Homo sapiens: one gene and its partners. The protein of the gene in region 3 purifies or fractionates together with the protein of the main gene of each other region. This does not show direct contact. Each region holds a gene or a part of one and is shown on either strand. Other genes may lie near its edges.

The links.
Region 1: the proteins of ITM2C (region 3) and NIBAN2 purify together in Homo sapiens (co-immunoprecipitation; one large-scale study listed by IntAct). This does not show direct contact.
Region 2: the proteins of ITM2C (region 3) and ITGA2 purify together in Homo sapiens (co-immunoprecipitation; one large-scale study listed by IntAct). This does not show direct contact.
Region 4: the proteins of ITM2C (region 3) and LRRFIP1 purify together in Homo sapiens (co-immunoprecipitation; one large-scale study listed by IntAct). This does not show direct contact.
Region 5: the proteins of ITM2C (region 3) and POMT2 purify together in Homo sapiens (co-immunoprecipitation; one large-scale study listed by IntAct). This does not show direct contact.
Region 6: the proteins of ITM2C (region 3) and ASS1 purify together in Homo sapiens (co-immunoprecipitation; one large-scale study listed by IntAct). This does not show direct contact.
Region 7: the proteins of ITM2C (region 3) and CUX1 purify together in Homo sapiens (affinity purification with mass spectrometry; one large-scale study listed by BioGRID and IntAct). This does not show direct contact.

Annotation. Positions count from the first base shown.
Region 1 is NC_000009.12:127,520,574-127,524,073, forward strand, and holds part of NIBAN2 (protein Niban 2), read right to left. Parts: intron 3,274-3,500; coding exon 3,106-3,273; intron 1-3,105. UniProt on the Homo sapiens protein: May play a role in apoptosis suppression. May promote melanoma cell invasion in vitro.
Region 2 is NC_000005.10:52,992,352-52,995,851, reverse strand, and holds part of ITGA2 (integrin alpha-2 precursor), read right to left. Parts: intron 1-3,500. UniProt on the Homo sapiens protein: Integrin alpha-2/beta-1 is a receptor for laminin, collagen, collagen C-propeptides, fibronectin and E-cadherin. It recognizes the proline-hydroxylated sequence G-F-P-G-E-R in collagen.
Region 3 is NC_000002.12:230,877,345-230,879,748, reverse strand, and holds the end of ITM2C (integral membrane protein 2C), read right to left. Parts: intron 2,350-2,404; coding exon 2,199-2,349; intron 1,742-2,198; coding exon 1,650-1,741; 3' UTR 501-1,649; downstream 1-500. UniProt on the Homo sapiens protein: Negative regulator of amyloid-beta peptide production. May inhibit the processing of APP by blocking its access to alpha- and beta-secretase.
Region 4 is NC_000002.12:237,779,865-237,782,143, reverse strand, and holds the end of LRRFIP1 (leucine-rich repeat flightless-interacting protein 1), read right to left. Parts: 3' UTR 501-2,279; downstream 1-500.
Region 5 is NC_000014.9:77,275,884-77,279,383, forward strand, and holds part of POMT2 (protein O-mannosyl-transferase 2), read right to left. Parts: intron 2,987-3,500; coding exon 2,846-2,986; intron 2,626-2,845; coding exon 2,511-2,625; intron 1,599-2,510; coding exon 1,493-1,598; 3' UTR 1-1,492. UniProt on the Homo sapiens protein: Transfers mannosyl residues to the hydroxyl group of serine or threonine residues. Coexpression of both POMT1 and POMT2 is necessary for enzyme activity, expression of either POMT1 or POMT2 alone is insufficient.
Region 6 is NC_000009.12:130,454,961-130,458,460, reverse strand, and holds part of ASS1 (argininosuccinate synthase), read right to left. Parts: intron 61-3,500; coding exon 1-60. UniProt on the Homo sapiens protein: One of the enzymes of the urea cycle, the metabolic pathway transforming neurotoxic amonia produced by protein catabolism into inocuous urea in the liver of ureotelic animals.
Region 7 is NC_000007.14:102,254,626-102,258,733, forward strand, and holds the end of CUX1 (Homeobox protein cut-like 1), read left to right. Parts: 3' UTR 1-3,608; downstream 3,609-4,108. UniProt on the Homo sapiens protein: May be involved in intra-Golgi retrograde transport.

The DNA of each region.
Region 1 (3,500 bases), on a different chromosome or scaffold from region 3:
GGGGATGAGGATGGGACCAAATCCAATACAACTAGTGCCCTTAAAAGAATAGTACATTTTGGCCGGGCACAGTGACTCACGCCTGTAATCCCAGCACTTTGGGAGGCCGAGGCGGCAGAATCACGAGATCAGGAGATCAAGACCATTCTGGCTACAAAAAATTAGCCAGGTGTGGTGGCACACGCCTGTAGTCCCAGCTACTCGGGAGGCTGAGGCAGGAGAATCACTTGAACCTGGGAGGCGGAGGTTGCAGTGAGCCGAGATTGCGCCACTGCACTCCAGCCTGGGTGACAGAGCAAGCCTCTGTCTCAAAAAAGAAGAAAAAAGAAAAAGAAAAAAAGAAAAGTACATTTCTTCTTGAAAGAAGAGAAAACACAGGCACACAGAGGCATGACCCTGTGAGGACTCAGGGAGAAGGCGGCCGGCCACCAGCCAAGGAGAGAGGTCTCGGAGAAACCAGCCCTGCTGACACCTTGCCCTCGACTCAGACCTCCAGCTGGGAGAGAACATATTTCTGCTGTGTAGCTGCCCGGTCTGTGGTATTTGTTATGGCAGTCTTGGGAAACTGAGGCCCCAGCCCTGGCTGAGGCTGCACACACATCAGCTCGTTGAATCCTCAGCTCACTGTGCCCTACTTTTCCCAGGGAAAGAACTGAGGCTCAGAGAGGCAGTTACTGCTCGAGGCTACTCAGCTAGTGGATGGCAGAGCGGGGCTTGAACCCAGGACCAGCTGACTCTAGCCAGACCTGGAGACCTTCCAAGAAAGGAAACTGCATTCCTCACTCCCAGGCAGCAGACAGAGGGGGACCACGGTCAGACAGGAAGAAGCCTTGACCTCTGCACCCCAGGCCAACACTGAGGACCCGGCACAGCCAGTGCCCCAGCTGCCTCCTGCCACCCCCAGCTGCTCCAGGAATGCAGGATGTGAAGGGGTCCCTGGGACCGCTGGTGTCCGCCCAGTTGGCCTCCTTCCCCCCACCCCCCACTTCCTGGCAGCCCCCGGAGTGAGCAATTCCAGGCTTCACAAATTCCAAGCCCAGCCTCCAAGACGGAGGAAGCAGAGAACTTTCTCACAGTCCGCAGGGTGGAAGGAAGGCCTGAAACCAGCCTCGTCAGCTCCCGCCCTGGGGAGAAGGGGCCACCCGGCAGGACACCTTCCTGGCACAGGACACCCCTTCATTCCCTGGCCCAGCAGCTCTCCTGGGCCTCCCTCTGGTCCACTGCACCTTAGAACCAAGAACTCCCCCATGGCCTCCCCACTGAGTGCTCACTGTGCGTGCCAGGCCCACGGCCAAGTGCCCCACCCAGACCAGCTCTTCCCAATCATCTCTCAAGCTCAAGTTTATCATCATCCCCACTGCACACATGGGGGACTGAGGTGGCCCTTCCCCACCTTGTTCTGTGCCCACCCCTTCCCTATCTGGCGCAGGTCACCCACCCTGCCAGGCCAGGTCAGCCGTTAGCCTTGGAAACCTGGAGAGATGGCACCAGGCCAGGGGCTGGGGAGGCGGGAGGGCCCTGGGCCAGGCAGCCAGAGCCTTGAGTGCCTCCACCCAGTCCCAGCCCACAGTCCCCGGGACCTGGGAACAGGAGGCCCTTTGTGGGCAGCTGGGCCCAGGTGGCAGGGGCTGGCCTGATTGAAGACCTGGTTCCTCCTGCTTGGCAGATTCCAGACAGGGCAGAGGTGGCTCTGGAGAGGCGAGCAGGAGGGGTGGGGTGAGCTGAGTCCCACGGCAGCAGCCCAGAGGCCATTGGCGCCCACTCCGTCCCCTGCAACCTTCCACCTCTGCACCATGTGGCACTGCGCCCAAGGGTGGGGCGGGGGCAGGAGCTTCCCTCAGGCCAGATCACCTGGAAGCAGTTCAGTGTCCAGGACTGGGTTGTTCCTTCCCTAGGGGCAGAAAGACCCCCAGGGACCCACCCTCACCTTGGAAGACCATCCTCAGCCTTTCTGTTCAAATTCCTTAGAGGCCTTCAAGGCTTTTCCAGACCTGACCCCAGAGGCCCCCCTCCAGCCCCATTTCAGGTCACCCCCTCCCTGCTTCAGGGCCTCGTGCAGTTCCTCCTCCGGGCCTACCCCTACCACCTGTGGGTCTCCCTTCATGCTGACTGCCTACCTCTGCCTGGAACACTCCTCCCCTCTCCTCTATGCAGGATATGAGGGGCCCTGGGACTTCTGGCATCTCCTCCTTCAGGTCTGGGACTTCTCCTTCAGGTCTCTGCTGAAGCTGAACCATAACCTCCTCAAGGGAGCCTGCCCTGATCGACCCCTCCCCCAACACACACACACCCTCAGGCTCCCAGGTTGGCTCCACCCAGCACCCAGCACAGCTGTGAGCCATCGTGCTGGCATCCTCATCTGTCTATCATCTGTCTCCCCTACCAGACTGCCAATTGTAGGAGGGCAGGGAATGTTTCTTGCTCCCTTGTTGCACACCCAGTGCCTAAATCTGGGCCTCCTCAGAGTAGACACTAAAAATGTTTGTTGAATAAATGAGTGAGCTGGAAGAGTCACCCCATAAGTTTACAGATGAGAGCAATGAGGCCCTGAGGGAGGCAGTGAAGTTTCCAAATCACCCTGCAGGTTGGTGGTTTTAAAAAAAAAAAAAAAAAAAAAAAATATATATATATATATATATATATATATATATATATATATATATATATATATATATATATAAAATTAAAAAAAAAATCTTTACCAAGCATGAGGTAGACTCTAAATCCTCATAACCCCCCTAAGACACACAAGGCATTATCCCCACTTTACAGAGCCTCCAAGAGGTAAGTCAGTTCCCTAAGGTCACGTAGCTGGAAAATGGCAGAATCAGGATTGTGACTTTGTGACTCAGGGTCCAAGGGCTCAACAACCACACCCCTCTGTGAATAATTTCCTACTTTTTTCCTGAGCAGCACAAAACTGTTTTCATCAAGAAAGAAGACTAAGGGTGGTATTACATGGTTTCTTATAACCCCAGAAGGGAAATTAGAACAGCCTGTAGAGCAGGGTTGCCACACCATAGTCAGCCACTAGGTGTCACCATTCAGCAATAACCCAGGTCCTGCCCCTCCCTCCCACCGACCCTGCACCCACAGGCCACTCACCATTGTTGCAGTGCCGGATGCAGTCCTGCAGCACAGCCTGCCACTTGTCCTGCTCGGCTTCTGTCATCATGCAGAAGTAGTAGTGACGCGCATAAGGATGCCAGAGGATGAGCGGGAACTGTGTGGGGCACTTGAGGATGGGGGCACTGCCCGACTTTGCCGTGGTCCCTGTGGAGACAGTGCCTGATGAGCAGCTGCCCTCTGTGGTTGCCCTCCACCAGAGGATGTCAGAGAACTGATCCCTTGGCATCAGCTCTGAGGTCAGGCTCAGGCCCAGAGAAGGCCAGCCTGTCCCAAGGTGACCAGCAAGCCGGCGGGGGTGGGAGCAGCCTTCTTTCTGGCTGTGTTCTCCTCAGCCCAAAACCTGAGTCCAGCATCCGTGCAGACCCATTTCT
Region 2 (3,500 bases), on a different chromosome or scaffold from region 3:
GCAGTTCCTTGAGCCATGGCCAAAGCCCTCTTCTAGTCCCTTTGCCTGACTCATCTTGTTAATGTCCTATCTTCAGTTATTCTCTAGGTGCCAATGACTCCTAAATCTCTATCCCCATCTTACTTTCCTGCCTGTTCCTAACGCCACTACATATAACTATTTGCTAATTAGACATATACATCCAGGTGTACATCCAGATGTCTCAAACTCAATCTGTTGACCTGAACTGATCATCTTTTTCCTCCAACTTGCTCTCCTTCAGCACTGCTTATCTCAGTGAATGGCACAAAATCAACTGACTTGTCCATGTCAGAAACCTAAGCATCAGCCTTATCTTCTCCCTCTCTCTCCACCTCCATAGTAAATCAATCATCAAATCCTGTTCACTCTTCTTCTTTAATGCCTTTCCAATAAATCCTCCAGTCTCTTTCCCTACTGCCACTATCTGAGTTTTTACCACCATCATCTCACAACTGGTCTCCTAAACTAAAACTAAAACCCAAACATATTCTTTCTTAAATGATCTTGGTGCTTTCCACCTGGCCTCCATCCAACCCACTCTCCTCATCTGATCATGTCACTCCCCTGCTCAAGGCCCTTCAAGACCTTTCTACTGTTCTCAGGATAAAACCCCTGCTCTATATCATGACTTACAAGGCCCTTCAAGGTCTGGTGGCTGCAACTCAGCTTTCACTCTCTGGGAACAACTTGAATACCACATTGTGGGCATAAGGACCTTCTGTTTTCATTGCGTCAGTATTCTATTCAAGAACCTAAACATCTGCCCCAGGAACTAGGAGACGAGTCCTATTGCTAGTTATGTTGCTTGCTTTTCTAGTATCACTTACATCCATTTTAAAAGGTAGAAACTGTACTCCAGGATCTCTGAGGTTCTTCATGGCAGATCTAAATTGTAATGATTCTTACCTGTTTCCATGAAGACATCTCAGGAGGCTAGACACTTCAATGTATCACAATGATATCTCTCCATCCTCTGAATTCAACATGTTATCTGTACCACTCATTAATTGTGAACACATGACATCTATTATGCTATGGAAACTGATGTTACAGCTCTCTAAGTTATAGAAAATGATATAACCAAGTTTTAAATTATATGAAAATTTTAAAGACACCAAGACATACTATAGTCTTAAATTCCAATAATTCAGAAGTTCAAAGACAACATCAAAGTCCATTTCTTTCCATAAGGCTAACTCCAATATACTAGCTTTATCCTTAAGCTAGTTGACATCGCAGTTGCAAGATGGCTGTAGTTGTTCCAAATTTCACATATAAACTTGACAATATTTTCTTTAACAAATATCTCTCTTAGGAATGAAAATTCTTTTCCCATAAGTCACCCAGCAGATCTCATTGGTCAACCTTGCATTACATGCCCATGGCTAAATCAGACACAGCCCAGATGCCTGGGACCAGCCTAATCACCCTTCAGCATCACCTCAATTTTTTAGCTATGCAGAAGAGGATGGTAACTCAATAAATGGACTTCTGCTAGAAAGGAAGATGACAAGGGGCTGAAATTGGTTAAGTATGCTTCAGGGCTGAGACAATTTCCTTTCCCCATGTTTGGATTTTTTTCCAAATAAACTCCAACCTCTCTCAGCCATGTTTTAAGTTTTCTCTGATTCCACCTTGAGCCTAACACACAGCCTTACATAAAGTAGATACCTTATAAGAATATTATCAAGTATTAGTTTTATGAAATTCACTGTAGCCAGATCAATAAAGCCTCTATGGATCACCTGAAGGGGCATAGGAATCACTGTCATACACAGAGTCTATTGTCTCATGATTTGCAGTGCTAGGATTCTCCCCTGTAGGGAGCCACTCTTCTGTATGTTCTGCTGGTAAATGATTGGTCACTGAACAACTGGAAAAAAAGAACTCCACCAACCTTCCATTTCTTTCACTTGCCAATCAGAGCGGTGATCTTTCATGGTTTCTCTTGTTTTATGCTGTGCTAAATCTTTTACTAATATCCCAAGCTGAGCAGTGTTGGTAGTCAAGACTTATGGCTTTAGTGGTAGAATTTATGTGATGCCTGGACACTTTTGGCCCCAAATATTTTCCCCATTCTTCCTGAAATTCTTGACTTTATACACATTGACTGAACATGTGTCTTTATTTTGCTGAATGTCTAAAATTACATCATGAGAAGCTCATCTCTTTACATTAACAAGCTTCTACCTTTTAATATCTCCAGGGCTGTCAGCACATGAAGACAGGGAGTAGTCATCATCCACTTCGGAAGGAATTTAACTGACACAGCCGCTCACAGCCACTAACTCTTGATGTTGAAATCTACCTGTCTTGGTGATCATCCCACAAGGTGGTAAGGGGTAGGTAACACTGGAATTTTAATCTTAGGAAAGTGGGGAGGCAGTGATGATATTTAAGCAATCACTTCCAAACCAGACCATACATCAGAAATATATGAGCCATTGTAAATACTGAATCCTAAACCCCAGTCCATAAATTTAAGTCAAACAGTGGCTCAGGACCTAGTATTAAGAGAGCAAAGCTTAGCTGAGGTTGGGCAGGTATAACTGCTAAGCCATAGGGGAGCAAAGTTACTTTATCAGAGGGCGGCCTAAGTCCCATTAAGGGGCTGAGGATGAGACCAGAGAGGTGGTTTAGGGTGGGACCCAGCAAAGGTAGGTTACCTCAAGCTTTCCTTTTTGTTGCAAAAGTAAAAGTTCTCTACTTTATAATTTTGCTTGGGATTGACCCTTCTAGCATTGGATAATGGTCAGTTGCAAAGAGATGAGTGAAAAGGGGTGAAAGCAACAATGCAATGAAGGCAAAGGGAGTATTTGGAAAATATTTTCACACTAAATATGGTATGATCAGGTGTAGTCATAACAAAGAATGGTGTATATAGATGGCTTTAGAGTGTGTACATGTGTGGGCATGTGTGTGGTGTGTGTGTGTGAATGTGTATTTGTGTTCAGGAAAGCATACAGTAAAGAAAAGATTGGATAGGTAGAATGTACCTTTTTATGACATGCCAAGAAATTGGCACTTTACCCTACCTGAGATGGGGAGCCACTAACATTTGAAACAAAGCAGTAATTGGAAACATATAAGTGTCTTAGAAAGATATCATTAGTGAAAATGAAGAGAATGGGTTGGAGAGATAAGAAAAGAAAATCCAGTTTAAAAGTTACATACAGACATAAGATGAGGGACTGACTGGGTGGCAGGAGTTGCATGGATGGGAGGAGAGCCAAGAGAATTTGGAGAGTGGCTGTGAGGTTGAAAACATGGGGACAAATTCCTGGCTTTCATGTTTGTGTGATAATAATACTGCCATTAAACAATGGTAGCCAATAGAGGAGAAAATTCTGGAGGACACGTATTAAATTCAGTTTTGGAAATGTTGAATCTGGCTTACTTACAGACTGTCTAGCTGGAGAAATTTGGTGGCTGATGGAAATACTGATCTGGAACTCAGAAGGGGAGGCTGGCTGGAGATA
Region 3 (2,404 bases):
TGGGGTCCACCTAGACATGGCTCTGGCCAGCTCTCCTGCCGCTTCCAGAATTCTCTGGAGAATGTGACCCTGTGATTATCACACCAAACCTCACTTCAGATCCTCCAGGAATGGTTACAAATTGTCCAGACGTGGTGGAGAATAGGACACCGCCCTTGTGCTTAAGGACATGCAATAATGATGTCATCTGCCAGGTAGAACATTACAGGGTGGTTTACAGGCACTTAAAGCAGCACGACCTTGGGCGAGTCGGTAAGCTCTCCCAGCCCTGTTCCCCTCCTCACCCGGAAAGTGTGAACTCTACCTGGCTCAGATCCAGGGTGCTACGAAGGGGATATCCTACACTCCTTGGCTGAATCCAGGATGCCCAGCTCTTTAGGGGCCAGATGTCAAGGTCTGCAGGCTTCTCCCTGCCTGCTGCTCCCGAGGTCCAGCTCCTCGACCCTGCCCGGAGCACCCCTCCTACACCCATCTCCCCTCCAGCCACACTCAAGTCAAGGTCAGAAGTAAAAGATTTTTATTGTTCTATAGACACTTCTGAAAAGAGATCTAATTGAGAAAATATACAAAGCATTTAAGAGTTTCATCCCCAGAGACTGACTGAAGGCGTTACAGCCCTCCTCTCCAAGGCTCAGGGCTGAGAACGGTTAGCATATCGAATGATCAGTAAAAACATGCAAAAGTGAGAAGGAAAGGGAAAAAGGTGCATTCCCCTAAGCTGAGGGGGATGGAATTTCAGAACAGAGGAGGCAGGGTGGACAAGTACCAGGTGGCTCTCCCTTTCCCTCTGTGTTATCTTTCAAAACAGTTCCAAGCTTGGAGAAAGCAATGAGCTCCACCTACTCAGCAGAACCCACGGCTCGTCCCCCGTGGACGTGACTGAGCAGTGACCTTGCCTGCCCCGTTCCTCAGCCGCCCATCCCACTGCCTTGACTGAGGGGACCCTGCTTGTGCTCCTGGGGGGCAGGACTGGGGGTCCTAGCTCCTTGCTTCTTTGGTTCCACTCAGAGAACAGTTGTGCTTGACGGACTCATCCCCACTCCCCAAACTCCAAGCTCCTGCTGGTGGGCTGAAGGCACTGACAGAGTCCCTGGGACACCCCCAGGTAGCCACCTTCTCTTGTGCTCTGGTGGGTCCCTCCCTGGGCACATCGTCCCATCCTCAGCTCAAGCCCCAGGTCTAGGAATAGGGACAGTGAAGAAAGTGTACCCTCCAAGAAAAAGCTTCTGAGGACTTTTCTAATTGTGCAGATACTTCTGAAGCCCATGCCGCCCCGCCCCCACAGCCCCATCCCCTTGCCCAGGGCCTCACATGCCCGGCTCCCCCAACCGGTCCTTCCCCTTGGGCTGCCGGTGCAGCTGTGGGCCCAGGCTTTGGCAGGCCCAGCTTCAAGACAGTGGGACACAGAAAACACTTTGCAGCATCGCCTCTCCCTCCGCCACACCCAGGTCAGCAGAGATGGGCCCCCCACCGAGAGATCACAGCTCTGGTACAGGGAGGTGGGCAGGGTTGGAGAGGAATGGAGAGACATGTCACCTCTATAGAAACGCGTCCAAAGTACAAGCTAAGCAGGGGGAAGGAGGAGGGCCAGAGAGCAGCCGGAAAGAAGAAAAGAGGAACACGGCAGGGGGTTCTGGGGGAGGAGGGCCTCACACCACCCCGCAGATGAGCGTCTCCACCACGAAGGTGTTCTCGAAGTGGCGGATGGCATTGCAGTTCTTGGCCCCACGCTTGTTGATCCCTGGGAGGAAAAAGAAAAACCCCAGTGAGCCCTGCATCCTGGCTGAGTCACAAAGACCACCAGCCTCAGCCTGAGCCACAGGAGGGCCAGGAAGTGACACCATTCACCCAGATTCACCCAAAGAGCACAGTGAGAAATGGGGAGAGCTCGAAAGCTGGAGTCAGCCTGCCCATGTCTGCCACCTCCCTGCTGTGTGACCTCCAGGGTGTTAACCTCTCTGCACCTGTTTCCTCATCTTTAAAATGGGCAGCAAAAATAATAATGAGGATGAGAATGACTTACACTCTTAAGAGGTCATAAAGAGCACACAGCATTGCCCGGCACACGGAAGTGCTCTGCTAATGCTAGCTGTTATTGCTGCTGCTATCTGAGCTCTCTGACAGCTGGGCTAGGCGTGAAGATAACTGTGGTCTGGGGCACGGGACAGGGGCTACTGTGGGTGAAGCCAGCCACTCACGCCTCCGCGTTGCCCGGCGCCGGAGCCGGTAGGTGTCTTTCCCGTTGCACAGGTGGTAGATGAAGGACCCCAGGGCCTCCTTGTCACTGACATGCTCCGTGACCACCATCTCCTCCTGGATGATGTACGTCTGCGGCAGGTAGGTCCCCCTCTGCAAAACAAGGTGGCCGCCACAGTGAGTCGGCCCCTCAGGCTTTCGTCCAACC
Region 4 (2,279 bases), 6.9 Mb from region 3:
GAGGAATTCTAAAACACAAGAGAAAATAACATTTGATTGTAATTCTGAACTGCATTGGATTTTTATCTATTTATGTTATCCATTTATGATGTGTTTTGAGTGTTTTGCTCTATGTCCTAGATGTTATTTCATTTCTAAAAATGAAAATCATTCATAGGAAACATACAACAGGGATCCTGGTCTGGGTTTTCAACCATTTCTTTTCCAAATCTTCTAATTCAGGTTACAGCAGTGGTTCTCAATGGGAGGCGCTTTTACACGCCCCTCACCCCCGCAGTGGACATTTGGCAATGTCTGGTGATGTTTTTGTGTGTCATGACCGGGAGTGGGGTCTACTGGCAATGAGTTGGTAGAGTTCAGTGTTGCTGCTCAACATCCCACGGTGCAGGGGACAGCCACCCCAGCCACCAAGAACGACCCAGCTCCAGACGACCGTCGTGCTGAGGCTGAGAAACGCTAGGTTGCAGGGATGAAAGAAGCCAGCAACCAATTTCCATTCGTTACATCTGCAAAAAAAGTTTTATTTTACTAAATAAATTTAAAAATCGTGTTCTAGCTTCCTCTGGATTAGGAAGTGTGTGTAACATTGGTTTGCTGTTTCCAAAAGAATTGGTGGGAGAGGTAGAGACTGAAGGCTTGACTTCCTCAGAGCCACTGATAGGGAAAACGCCATCTTCTCAGGGCTGTGAGACACCTGGGAATCGATGCCTTGCAGCCCTGTTCTACCAGCTGGGAGACTTCTGCCAGTTCACCTTCCTGGACCCTGGGTCCCTCATCTGTAATGTGGATTTGATAACAGCATCTACCTCATAGAATTTCCGTGCAAATGAAATGAGTGAAAATATGTGAAAATTGCATGAGTGAAAAATACCTAAAAGCGTCAGCATGCTGCCGGCCGTGTCTGCGTGATGTGTGAGTGTTTGCTGCTGGTGTTATTCACGCATGACATAGACATTTTCCCAGTTAAACATGCTTGTATTCAGATGTTGTGGAAGAAACCTTAAGGATGAGACAAGGAACTGAATATCTCCCTTTTGCCGGTGGGCCCAGCATGGTCAGCACAGGGTCCCTGAGGGGCTTCGTCCAGCTTCCTTCCTCTTTCCTGTTCATACGGTGCCCGGGTGTGCAGTGTGGGTCTCCCAGTGGTGCCCACCTGCCAGCACATTTTGCTCACCTGTCCGACCCGTGGTTTCCTACTTGCCAGTGTTGGCCCCCAGCCCCCTATAACTTGTCTGCTTCCCAATGGGCAGTGGCAAATATCCTCTGCACAAGGAGATACAAAAATCTTGTGTATTTTAATAGAGATTTCATCTCTTTCTTAATGCAACGCAGCTGTGTATATCCTAGATCCATACAGTTCTGGGGGATGGACACTGGTGACCCCTAGCATTATGCTGGGAGTGTTTTCTTGATTATATACCCTGAACTCACAACCCTCACTCCAGCATTCTCCATGTGTTAAGACTAGATATGGTTTTGGATGATACTGACTCAGTTTCCACTTGCTAACGTCCCGAAAAGCTGACTGGCTTCACCAGCCATACTTGAAATACAACATATATGAACAGTCACTAAAAATCAGCAGGTAGCTAAACGTTTTTACTTTTGTCCTTGATGATATTGCCATCGTCTCTACTGTTACCTCCTCCTTCACTTCACTTTTTAAGTGCACTCATTCTGTGAAAACACCTTTTTTTTTAAATAGGGAAAGAAAAATGAATTGACTTGATATTCTTAAAAAATAAAAAGATGACCCAAAATATACAGAACCATTAATATGAAATTAAAGATCTTCTTTCTCAGTGGAAAAAAATTAGAACCACATTGCTGAAGTCTCTCAACATTTCATTTTTAATTTTTCTAATAGTACATTCTTTAAAAGAAGTTAACGACTTCAATTCCAAATATAAGGATTAAATAATGCAATGAAAAGCTGTCATTTTCAGTGAAGCTATTGCCTAATTACCCTGGAAAAAAGTATTCTTATGACTGAACTGATGCAAAAATCCCTTAGAAAAGCTTCATTTGTTGCCTGTAAAGAGTCTTCTTAAGGTCACTTTTACTTCTAGACTGCCCCCTTGTTTCCAGTGAAAGAGTTTTGCTTGGTAATGGCTTGTGGTTCCACAGTGTTTTGTGTATGAAAAGCGTAGACTAAGAGATACTACTGAAGTCGCTCAAATTGTAGATTCTGCCATGAAAGGAAGTCCCAACACTGTAACATTTCCCCTTAATCTTCAGCAAGACACATGAAAAAAAAAAAAAACTCAAGTCCCAACTGA
Region 5 (3,500 bases), on a different chromosome or scaffold from region 3:
GGCCAGAAGCTTCCCTCCCCACCACCCAGTAGGTAGCACAGCCTGTCCCTGGGACCAATATCCAGTCTCCGTGGCAACCGCCTCCTGAAGATGCTTTAAAGAGATCTGACCCTGTCAGAGTTGTTGGGAGCTTCAGAGGAGGGAAAATGGAGTGTGGCGGATTCATCATTAAATATTGAAGCATCAAAGTCCTCTGAGACAAAAGAAATATTTTGTCATGCACCAGGAAGGTGGAGGCAGGCTTAAGGGCTGGCCTTGGGTGGTTTGGTTCTACCACAGGGTTTTCTTCATCCCTTTTGGGGAGGAAGTGGAAGGGGCAGCTCTGAGCTTCTTGTTTGAGCTGCAGAGTGGTAGACGCAGGAAGCTGGCATGCATTTCTAGGTGCCATGGGTCTTCACTGCTGAAGCAGTGACAGAGAGAAAGGGAATTGCCCACGGAGTGAGGGAGGGGTGAGCAGAGGAGGACTGCAGAAGTGACACTGGGAAAGCTCAGCAGGTGACAGGAACATTAGTCTGGAGAGGCCAGAGTCCCCACATCCCAGCACCACGCAGATTCCCTGCCCTGTCTCTCATCTACCTTGGGCGCTAAGCAAGGTTCCCATGGGCTCTCCCAGCAGCCAGGAGAATGCATCTGCCTTGCCCTCCAGGCCAGGCTAGATGCACTTGGAGAGACCTGGCCTCTGGCACACAGGGCCTGGGAACACTGAGCAGCCCAGGATAGGACATCGTTCCTCCCGAGTGTCACAGTGTGACAATCCCAAAAAACGAGGAACCAAGGGCTAAGGCAGGCTGACGCTCCGGAGTCCGCTGCTCTCTGTGCGTCACAGGCAGGAAGTCCAGCTACCTGCAGCCACTGGGGGGCATGGTGGGAGCCAGGCCCTCCAGCTCGGGGCGGCGCGCCTTCCTCCACGCTGGATTCATTTGTTTGTGGGAGGGAGGGCAGCACAACTTTGACAGTCCCATCTGCTCTGCCTTTGGTGACATCCCAAGGTGAGGTCAGTATTCTCTGCCCTCAAGGCCCTCTCAGAGGTCTGAGAATTTTTGATGGATCTTACAAACCAAAACCAAAGAAATCCAACAGAAAAAAATACCAGAAAATATTACTATAGCCTGGACTATTTTAGAGTTTATGACACTCAGCTGTCCAGTTACACGGTCTGTATTCCACAGGGATATGGACAACATGCCCTCACATACACACACGCGCACCCACTCCCACCCTCTGGCACCCATCCTCCCCTGCGCTGTGCACGAGGGAGCAGCCCAAGAGGCGCTGTCCTCTCCGTGGTGCTGTGGACGGAGCTGCGGCTCTCTCCCGGCTCTCTCCAATGCTGGGTTCCATTCCAGCTGCACTCCCAGAGCTGGGTCCTGGTGAGCAGCAGAATTCTTCGGGCTCCTTAGGCAGCTTCCTCATGGCCGGATGGTCCAGTACTGCTTCCCAGCTGGCTCTCCTGGGAAGTTCCTGGACCCAGGCTGGAATCTTTGCAGTGGCCTCAAAAGTCCCATGAGTCCAGCCACCTTAGTCCTGCCATTGGACTTTGGGGGTCCTGGGCCAGGGGACCAACCATCCCGTAAGCCAGAGGGTGGAAGAGGTAGAAGCTGTGAGAGAGAACCAGTAGGAGGCAGTTGGCACCCCCAGTGCCTCAGCTGAGGGGCTTTGAATTCCATTCCTCCTGCTGGAGCTCCAGAGAAATTCCCCATCGCCAAGCCCGGTTCTCTTTCACGGCCTTGTCTGTCTGAGTCCCACTGGGGCACACTGTAGCTGGAGAGCTTAGTAGATGCTGACTCAATGACAATCATGGAAAGGGCTCTTCCCAAGAGGCCCAGGAGGGCAACCCTTCTAGGGGTCTTGTCATGGGCTATTTGGCCAGGGGTGTTTGTCAACATGTGAATGTAACCCTCTTAGGCAGGCATGTGCTCACAGGCCACAGGCCCAGCACCAAGGCCAGGGACTGGGGAAGCGGGGAGCCTTCCAAACAACTCTCCCTTTCAGCCACTCAGCCACACACTTCCCATTCCCACCCTTCCCACCCCACCCGTCGAGAGCTCTTCCGGCAGGGGGCCACAGTGACTAAAGAGGGGTGCCCTGTCCCCCATTGCCCCCCGGTTCCCCCCTCCCTCACCCGGAGAGCTGTTCTGACAGGGGGCCATGGTGACTAAAGAGGGGTTCCCTGCCCCCCATTCCCACACTCCCCCTCTGAGAGCTGTTCTGGCACAGAGTCACTGTCACTAGAGGGGTACCCTTCCAGGTGCGCTGGGATGGCACAAAAGCTGAACCACCGGCAGAAGGGGAAAAGGCAGAGTTAAGCCCTGCTTCTCCTACCTGGCTGCACATTAGGATCACCTGGGGGACTCTGGAAACCACGGCCCCACCTGGGCTTGGGTGACGCAGAACCTCCAGGCATGGGCACTGGTGGTGTTAAAAGCACCGCAGGGGATTCTCGAATGCATCAGGGCTGAGGCACTGCTGAGCCCACACTGGGAGGGCATGTGAGGTGCAGAGATGCTCACCTGTAGGCAGTTCCCAGGAGCAGGCTCAGGATTCCCGCCACATGTATGCCCCTCGCCAGGGGCCATGAGGCCAAGCCCCAGGCACAGAGCCGCAGGAGGGTGTCCCACAGAATGCCTAGAGGAGAGGAGAGAAACCTGGAGTCAGCCAGGCAGGGGGTGACTTCTGGGCTACAGAAGAAGGAGGCACTCCAAGTCAAGGAGCAGAGAGTCACTCCCAGCACTGCTGCCCCACAGTGGCCTCCCGTCAAGGAGCAGAGTCACTCCCAGCACTGCTGCCCAACAGTGGCCCGCCCTCCACCTGCTCTGTCTCCCAAGTCCAGGTGGGTGGCACTGACCTGTCAACATGCTTGAGAAGAGCATGGCTGGGAAGTAGTGGTGGAAGTAGAGGACCCGGCCCATCAGGAAAAACGGGAAGTAATGGAGTGTCCAGCCGAGCAGGACCTGGCCGCCTCCTCGAAGCAGGACCTGGGACAACCCTGGGCCCAAGCAGCACAGCCCAGTCAGAAGACAAGGAGCGGGCAGAGATTCCAGGCTCTGGTCCAGCTCTGCCCCTTCCTTGCTGTGTGACCTTGAATATGTCATATCACCTCATTGGACCAACCCAAACCACGCTACAGAAACTGGAGAGGAGCAGCTGGGGCTCGAGAGCTCTGGTCAGGGCCCAGCCTAGTGAGGCCTGGGCACCAATGGCAGGTGCACCAAGCACCAGCAGGAGGCAGCCCAGCCTCTAAAGAAACCCTTCTGCGCCTGCAGACAGCTTCACTCCCTACTTCCACCTCCCACATCTTTGCTGCCACACAGATCTTTGCAGCGGCAGACAGGCGCTAAGGTGAGGTTACAGGTGAGGATGGAGTGAGGAGGTGTCTGGGACTATGACTGTTCAGACAGAGAGCTGCAGAGGCAAAAGGGCCTGTGTGACTGTCTCAGGTGCTGTGGCCCATGGTCTGGCAGCCAAAGTTACCAAGAACAGCACTGGGATGGGAACTCAAT
Region 6 (3,500 bases), on a different chromosome or scaffold from region 3:
CTGGATGGCCGGCCAGATGAACTCCTCCACAAACTCCCTGCTGACATCCTCAATGAACACCTACGGGAAGAGGAGCCCAGAAGGAAGAAGTAGGCAAGGACAGGGGCCATCTGGCATACAGAGCCCCAGGGGCCTCAGCTAGCTGAGACCTATACGGGGCCACCCCCGCTGTACCTGGTGCTTCTTCTTCTGCATCTGTAGTAGACATCATTCATCAATCCCAGCACACTGCACTGTTACTCTCCCTCCTGCACTCATGGCAGACATTGCTAATCAATAGCTCTCTTTTTTTTTTTTTTTTTGAGTCGAAGTCTTGCTCTGTTGCCCAGGTTGGAGTGCAGTGGCTCAGTCTCAACTCACTGCAACCTCCGTCTCCCAGGTTCAAGCAACTCCCCTGCCTCAGCCTCTTGAGTAGCTGGGATTACAGGCGCATGCCACCATGGCTTGCTAATTTTTGTATTTTTGGTAGAGACGGGGTTTCACCATGTTGGCCAGGTTGGTCTTGAACCCCTGACCTCAGGTGATCCAGCTGCCTCGGCCTCCCAAAGTGCTGGGATTACAGGCACAAGCCACCGCGGCCAGCCTGCTAATCAATCCTGATGCACCGTTCTGTGAAACTGGATGTGGCTTCTAAATCAGCCCCAACAAGATGAAACTTAGTTGTCACCTAAGATCTCACAGCAGTAGTTCCCAACCAGAGACGGTTTTGTCCCTGTTGGGGGTGGGAGTAGGGGAGGCATTTGGAAGTATCTGGAGATATTTTTGGTTGCCACAACTACCAGGTGGGGGGTGGAATTCTGGCATCTAGTGGGTAAAGGCTATGGGGATACTGCTAAAATCCTCCCGTGCACAGGACGGCCAGCCACACGGGAACAAGGCCAAGACTGAGAAACCCCGATCCAGAGGAATGGTTCTTGAAATGTAGACCCCCAGGGGTTCCCAATGACTTTTCAGGGAGACACTGAGTGAAAACTTTTTTTTTGTTTTTTTGAGACAGGGTCTTTCTCTGTCATCCAGACTGGAGTGCAGTGGTGTGATCCTAGCTCACTGCAGCCTCAACCTCCTGGGTTCAAGCAATCCTCCCACCTCAGCCTCTTGAGTAGCTGGGACTACGGGCATGTGCTACCACGCCCGGCTAAGTTTTTTATTTTTTGTAGAGATGGGATCTCACTGTGTTGCCCAGTTTTCTTCATAAACTTCAATAAAACAAGGCATCACATAGCGAGGAAGCCCTGGGAGGCTAAAAAAGAAAAACAAACAAACAAACGAAAAAACAAGTGAATGCAGAAAACCGCTACAAGAGTCCATCTGTTTTCTGTCAAGCCAGACATTACAGAGATTTGCAAAAATGGAAGCCAATAAGATTCTTAACTAAAATTTTTTGTTTGAGAAAATAGTTATTTTTCATAAGTGTAATGTTACTTATGTTAACATGAACTGTTCATTTAAAACATTTCAGCTTTTATTTCTAATGTGATAAATATCAACAGATGTAATCCACAAAAGCTCTCTAAGGCCTTCAGTAATTTTTATTTTTTTGAGATGGACTCTCTGTCATCCAGACTGGAGTGCAGAGGTGCAATCTTGGCTCACTGTAACCTCTGCCTTCCGGGTTCAAGTGATTCTCCTGCCTCAGCCTCCCGAGTGGCTGGGACTACAGGCATGTGGGGTTTCTCTACTAAAGAAACTAGGCTGGTTGGCCAGGCTGGTCTCAAACTCCTGACCTCAAGAGATCTGCCCACTTCAGCCTCCCAAAGTGCTAGGATTACAAGCGTGAGCCACCGCACCCAGCCAAGGCCTTCAATAATTTTTAAGAGTCGAGAAATTCTTGGTACTGCTTTTGCAACTTCCTGTGTCTATAATTATTTTGAAAAAAATCCTTTTAAAAAATGAAATAAAAAGGCATAGAAAAGAAAGCAATTGGGACTAAGGATATATAAAAAACATTAGGATAAATGTGTTTTTGTGTTTGTTTGGTTGGTTGGTTGGTTTTTTTTACAGAGTTTTGCTGTTGTTGCCCAGGATGGAGTGCAATGGTGTGATTTCAGCTTACTGCAACCTCCGCCTCCTGGGTTCAAGCGACTCTCCTGCCTCAGCCTCCCGAGCATCTGGGATTACAGGCACCCACCATCGCGCCCAGCTAATTTTTGTATTTTTAGTAGAGACAGGGTTTCACCATGTTGGCCAGGCTGGTCTTGAACTCCTGACCTCAGGTGATCTGCCTGCCTCAGCCTGCCAAAGTGCTGGGATTACAGGCGTGAGCCACTGTGCCTGGCCCATCCTAATGTTATATGCAAGAAAATAAACATTAAAAACGCCACGTAAATTAGAGTGTAGAGGATTCCCAAGACCACAAGTTTTGAGAACTGCTCATCTAGAATAAAGGACAAAAGCTGAAGCCGTGCACAAAGCCTGCTCCTGCGCTGCTGAAAGCGCACTCGAATCTTCAACACTCAGGGCTCTTTCTCCCCTTCCTGGACTACTGCTCAGACAACCCCTCTGCTCTCCAGCACTCGGGAGGCACAGAACCAAGGAGGGACATTCTAGTTCCAGGCCTGTGGCCAGTAGGTGACTTGGGACTGGGGCATCCACTCCCTCCCGTGTTCATTTTAACATGCTAATTACCCTGGCAACCCTGCAGAAGCACCCCACAGAGGGGATCAGCTCTGACCCTGCAGGTGGGCTGGTGGCCTTGCACATCATCCCTGCTATGTCCCCTGCTCACTCTCCCAAATGAAGGGGCACAAGTGGCAAGGGCTTCTCCATGGGGAGTGAGCACATGTGAGCAGGGGTCCTGATGACACTGTTCATCATAAATGCCCTGTATGGGACAGGGGTCTGCCTGCCACATGCCTAGATTCACAATCAAGGCACCAGACTCAATTGGAGTTCTCTGATTCTGTTGAATGAATGGAAGAATGGGTAGACAGAGAGATAAAAGAGGGAAGGACAGGTAGGGGGATGATGGACAGAAGGATGGATGATGGATGACAGATGGATGGATGGATGAATGGATGGATAGAAAAACGGTGAATGGATGAAGGATGGATGGATGGATGGGGGATGGATAGATGAATGGCTGGCTGTCTGGATGAATGGATGGATAGACAGTGGAGGGATTAATGACAGATGGATATGTGGATGGATGGATGGATAATGAAGGGATGGATGGGTGAATGGATAATGGGATGGATGGATAGATGATGGATGGATGAATGGATGGATGAATAGACGGATGGATGATGGATGGATGCATGGGTAGATGATGGATGGATGAATGGATGATGCATGGAAGGATGAAGAATGATGGATGGATGGATGGATGATGGATGAATAAATGGATGATGGATGGATAGACGGATGATGGCTGGATGAATGGATGATGGGTGAATGGATGGATGGATGGATGATGGATGAATGGATGGATGATGGATGGATGGATGATGGGTGAATGGATGGATGGATGATGGATGAATGGACGGAGGATGGATGGATAGATG
Region 7 (4,108 bases), on a different chromosome or scaffold from region 3:
GTGCTTGGGCATTGACCAGCCAAAGCTCACATTTAGAAAGCCCTCAGTGCTTCTGTGGTTTCACCTGGGCATCGACGACATTAGGGAAGCCTTTGTGACCACAAGGGCAGGGCTTGTGCCCTGAGTGGCGAGGTGGTGACCTGAGGCCAGTGTGATGTGGTTGGATCTCAGCGTGTACTGAATGCCAGTCTGGCCGGCACACTCGAACGCTAAGAGAATGGTCCAATTTGATGATCTTATTTCTATTTCGATCAGGTTTTGACTTTTTGTAGATGAAAACTACCAGGGAAAAGGGGAAGCAGGTACCCAATAAAGTTTAGAAAGATCCAGTCTGTGAAACCCTTAGAGATGGGCTGAAAGTTAAGTCCACCAACCCTTGGGCTTAATCAGGACGGAAGAGGAGGGGGTGTGGGGGGCAGAGCGTAAAACAAGCCCCAGCCCTACTCCCGGCCCCCCAGCCCAGTCTTCCCAATCCCAGAGGCCCCGGCGGCCTGTGCTCCTCACCACCCTGGTCAGGGGAATAGAAGGAAATGCAATTTCCGCCTGTCTGCCCGACTTCCAAAAACTGCCTCCTCCTGCCCAGGCCTCTCCCACCACCACCTTCCCTCCAAAGATAACCGTGTCCATGCCATCCGTGGCATCATCTCGAGTTTTCATTTTTGGATGAAGTGACATTTAGCTTTAACAAGACATTTCCAAAGCGCCTAGTCTCCTCCAAAATGCTAACTTTAAAAGTTGGGCATTGTAGGCGAAAAATCCCAAAAAAAAAAAAAGACAAAAAAAAAAGGCTGGCGAGAGAAAGACATTTGGCTATGCATAAATGTGCACTTCCCCCATGCCCCCGTTCTTAAACTCTTAAGATGCCTTTGAGTTGCTTTTCATGAATCCTTTTAGTTTACCCGATAATGTTAAGAAAGCATTAGTCTACGTTACTGTAATTTCTGTAGTGTTTACGCTTTAATTTCTACCACAAAATATGCTATATGCTATGTATCAAGCTTTCTGTAATCAGAAAGAAAAGGTGCCTTATATCCCAATGTCACGGCTACATCCCTATGGAAATTAATCAGAAGCACAGTGTGTACGGAAGCATTGGGACTTCTGCTGGTGAAACAAGAGACCATTCAGCAAGACACATTGAAGTGGCACGGAGCTGCTTTTGTTTTATAATTCTTTTTTCCCCCCTTTTCCTTCTTCTTTTTTATTATTTTATTATTTTTTTTGTACTTTGCTTTAAACGGAAAGCACTTAAATAGATGACTATGTGTAAAAGCTCTGTGCAATTGAAATCATTTTTCTTCATTTTAAAAAAATAACGTATTGCACACCAAATGAACTCAAAGTAAGCTTTAGACCAGGACGATTCAGGTTATGAATGAGTTTGTTCACTGTAGTTCCGTTTGTTCATGAACCGAAGGGAAAACAGGCCTCCCCGACTCCCTCCAGTCTCCCAGCCTGCCTCTTGGTGACCACTGTGCTGGGCGTGCAGGGCCCGCGGGCTCTGGCCGGAGCCGCTGGCCTGACGAGGCAGGATAGGGAGTATCCGTGATTCAGAAGCTGAGACCCTTCCCCAGTGTCTGAGGCCACAGCCATCCCTTCCAGCACTTAATCTTGTCTTGTTGAAATGGACTGACTGCTACTGACCTGCCGGCGTGCGTGAGGGTGATTATAAAAGGATGTTTCCTTGAGAAAAAAAAAATTATTTCTATCCTCTTCTATTTATTATTAGGTTAATCATTTAAGTACTTATCAGGAGTGTATTGTTATTTTGTGTTTTGTTGTCATAAATGCTTTTTGCTGTCACTCTAGTGGTTACTATCCTCTGCCTTCCTCTCCTCCCCTACTCCCCCAGAGAACCAAGGCGTCTGGGGGATTGACTGGGGGGCAGAGGGGGTTTCCCCAGCAAAATCAAACACCTGTCTCCAGAGTAGCCACTCAAAAACTGGTGGTCTCTATGTGTCTAACTTTTTAAATGAGAGTGTTTATGAACAAAAAAATTTACCAACGTGTGAGGGAGTTGCTGAGTTGAAGAATGCTCGCTTGAGGAGCTTCAGAGGAATCTTAGCAAAGCCAAGTTCAGTTCCCCAAAGCCTCCTAGAGCCTCTGGTAAGACTTCTGGGTTCATGAAGTTTCGGCGAGCCGTGGTCAGAGAGGGCGCGGTGGCCTGGCCAAGACTTTACCTCCAAGCGAGAGAGTGATTTCTTGCAAGGCCCGCATGGGTTGATACGTTTTGGTTGGTTTTTTGTTGTTGTTTTTCTTGCGTACAAAGTTGGTCAAAACCATCTTTCAAAGCAACAGTGTTTTGTAGTACCAGGCTGTGGCTTGAGGGCTCACCTAGGAGATCATAGGCAGAGGGCCCCTTTCCCCTATAGGTGGTTCAACGTGGAGGAAGGTTGGGTGTGGAGATTGCTTGCTGTGGCCCCAAGCTCAGCCAGCAGGACACCCAGTTGTTGCCAATCAGGTGTGAAGGTGAGGCGCCCTGCCTTGATCCCATGGGCCCAGCAGAAGGAAACTTACCCCAGGCCAAGGCAAGGGCCCTGCTCACCCCAAGGTAGGCTGGGAAGAGCATCTCTTTCCATATCATCACCTCCCCTTCTCCAAGATTGCCGGGGGCCCTGATTTTGTTCTCTCTTTGAAAGAAACCCTCCACCGAAACAATGGTCCCCATCTCCCCAGAAGCCTTTTTTTTTTTCATTTTTCTCTAATTAGTCTATGCATTTCTCTCTCTCAAACCATCTTCTGCCTCTTCCCTTGAGAAAACGGGCATCTCACGTACCCCCATCTGAGACCTCTTGGAAAAAAAAAATCCCGTGTATTCTGGAGATGTGAGAATTCACCCAAAATTCTTAAAACATTGGAGAATAGCTTGTTATAAAATAAAAGTGGGGGTAAAAAGAAGGTGGTTTTCCCCACATCCCTTTGCATTGAATAAGAGACCTAGTTCTTTGCGTTTGTGCAATAACTCTTTGCTGCTTGCCTTGAGAGCGGGTAGCACCACGCTCCTGTCCAGACTACTAACAGCACAAGACGCACTCACAGGGTGGCGGAATCTTCCGGAAAACTCTCTATAAGCTCAGCTCCCCCCACCCCACCCCCACTCTAGCGTTTTGTCACGTCTTACATTTTAGCAGTATTTTATATTTTCTGTAACGCACCAAGTCTTAGATCTTTCTAGAGCTTGTTTGTTCATCCTCACAATCACAGATTTTTTTCTCCAATCCTCACAGAGACCCAATTGACCAAAAAAGAAAAAAGGAAAAAAAAAAAGTCGTCTTTTTTTTTTTTTTTTGTACAAATCGCTTTGAGATGCCTCTGGTGTGTTGCTGTGTGACATCTCTCTGGTAACATTTTATTTCTTGCTATTTGTTTTTCTACATTAAGAGTCAAAGTTGACCTGGCTGGCGTGGGGGTGGGGGAGGCACCCGTCGGCCCCTTGGTGTTGTCCCTCTGTCTTTGGTTAGCCATACGATGTTTGTTCTCAGCACTGTACAACGGTCCCTATATAATACGGAGAAGCAATATCACTGTATGAGACTCACACCATGTATTATTATTCACTAGCACCCTAGGTGTGATAATTGAAGTAAATATCTTTTATACAAACACAAGAATGTGTGGGTTGTTTTTATTTAAAGTGCTCTGGCCTGAGGACGAGCAGCAAACACTGTCATTCGAGGTCCAAAGGGCACCTCAAGAATCGCCGTTCCCGAGGTCGTCCCCTTTGCACCTGTCCGCAGGTCCTCGGGCGTGTGGCTTCCGGGCACACAGAAAACCGTGTGGTTCTAGGATACATGGGGATCTCGGGCACTGCTCTGTCAATCTGCATCTGGTTCACAGGAAGGGCTTCGCCAGGGCCTGCGTTCCTACTTGCTGTTGTCACCAGCACTGTTTGCCTACCCTTGAACCAAGCCCTTACCCTCCCTGGCGTCCGCTTCCTTTTCTGTAAAATGGAGACACCATCTCCTGTCATATAGGCTTGCTGTGGGGAACCAGGAATGGTGGCCAGTGCTGGTGCGGCACTGGGCTGGTGGTGGCAGCCCCAATCGATGGCACTTGGGCGACCAGGACTACGGCCAGTCTCCTCTGCCGTGTGGCCTGCAGCTGGTCA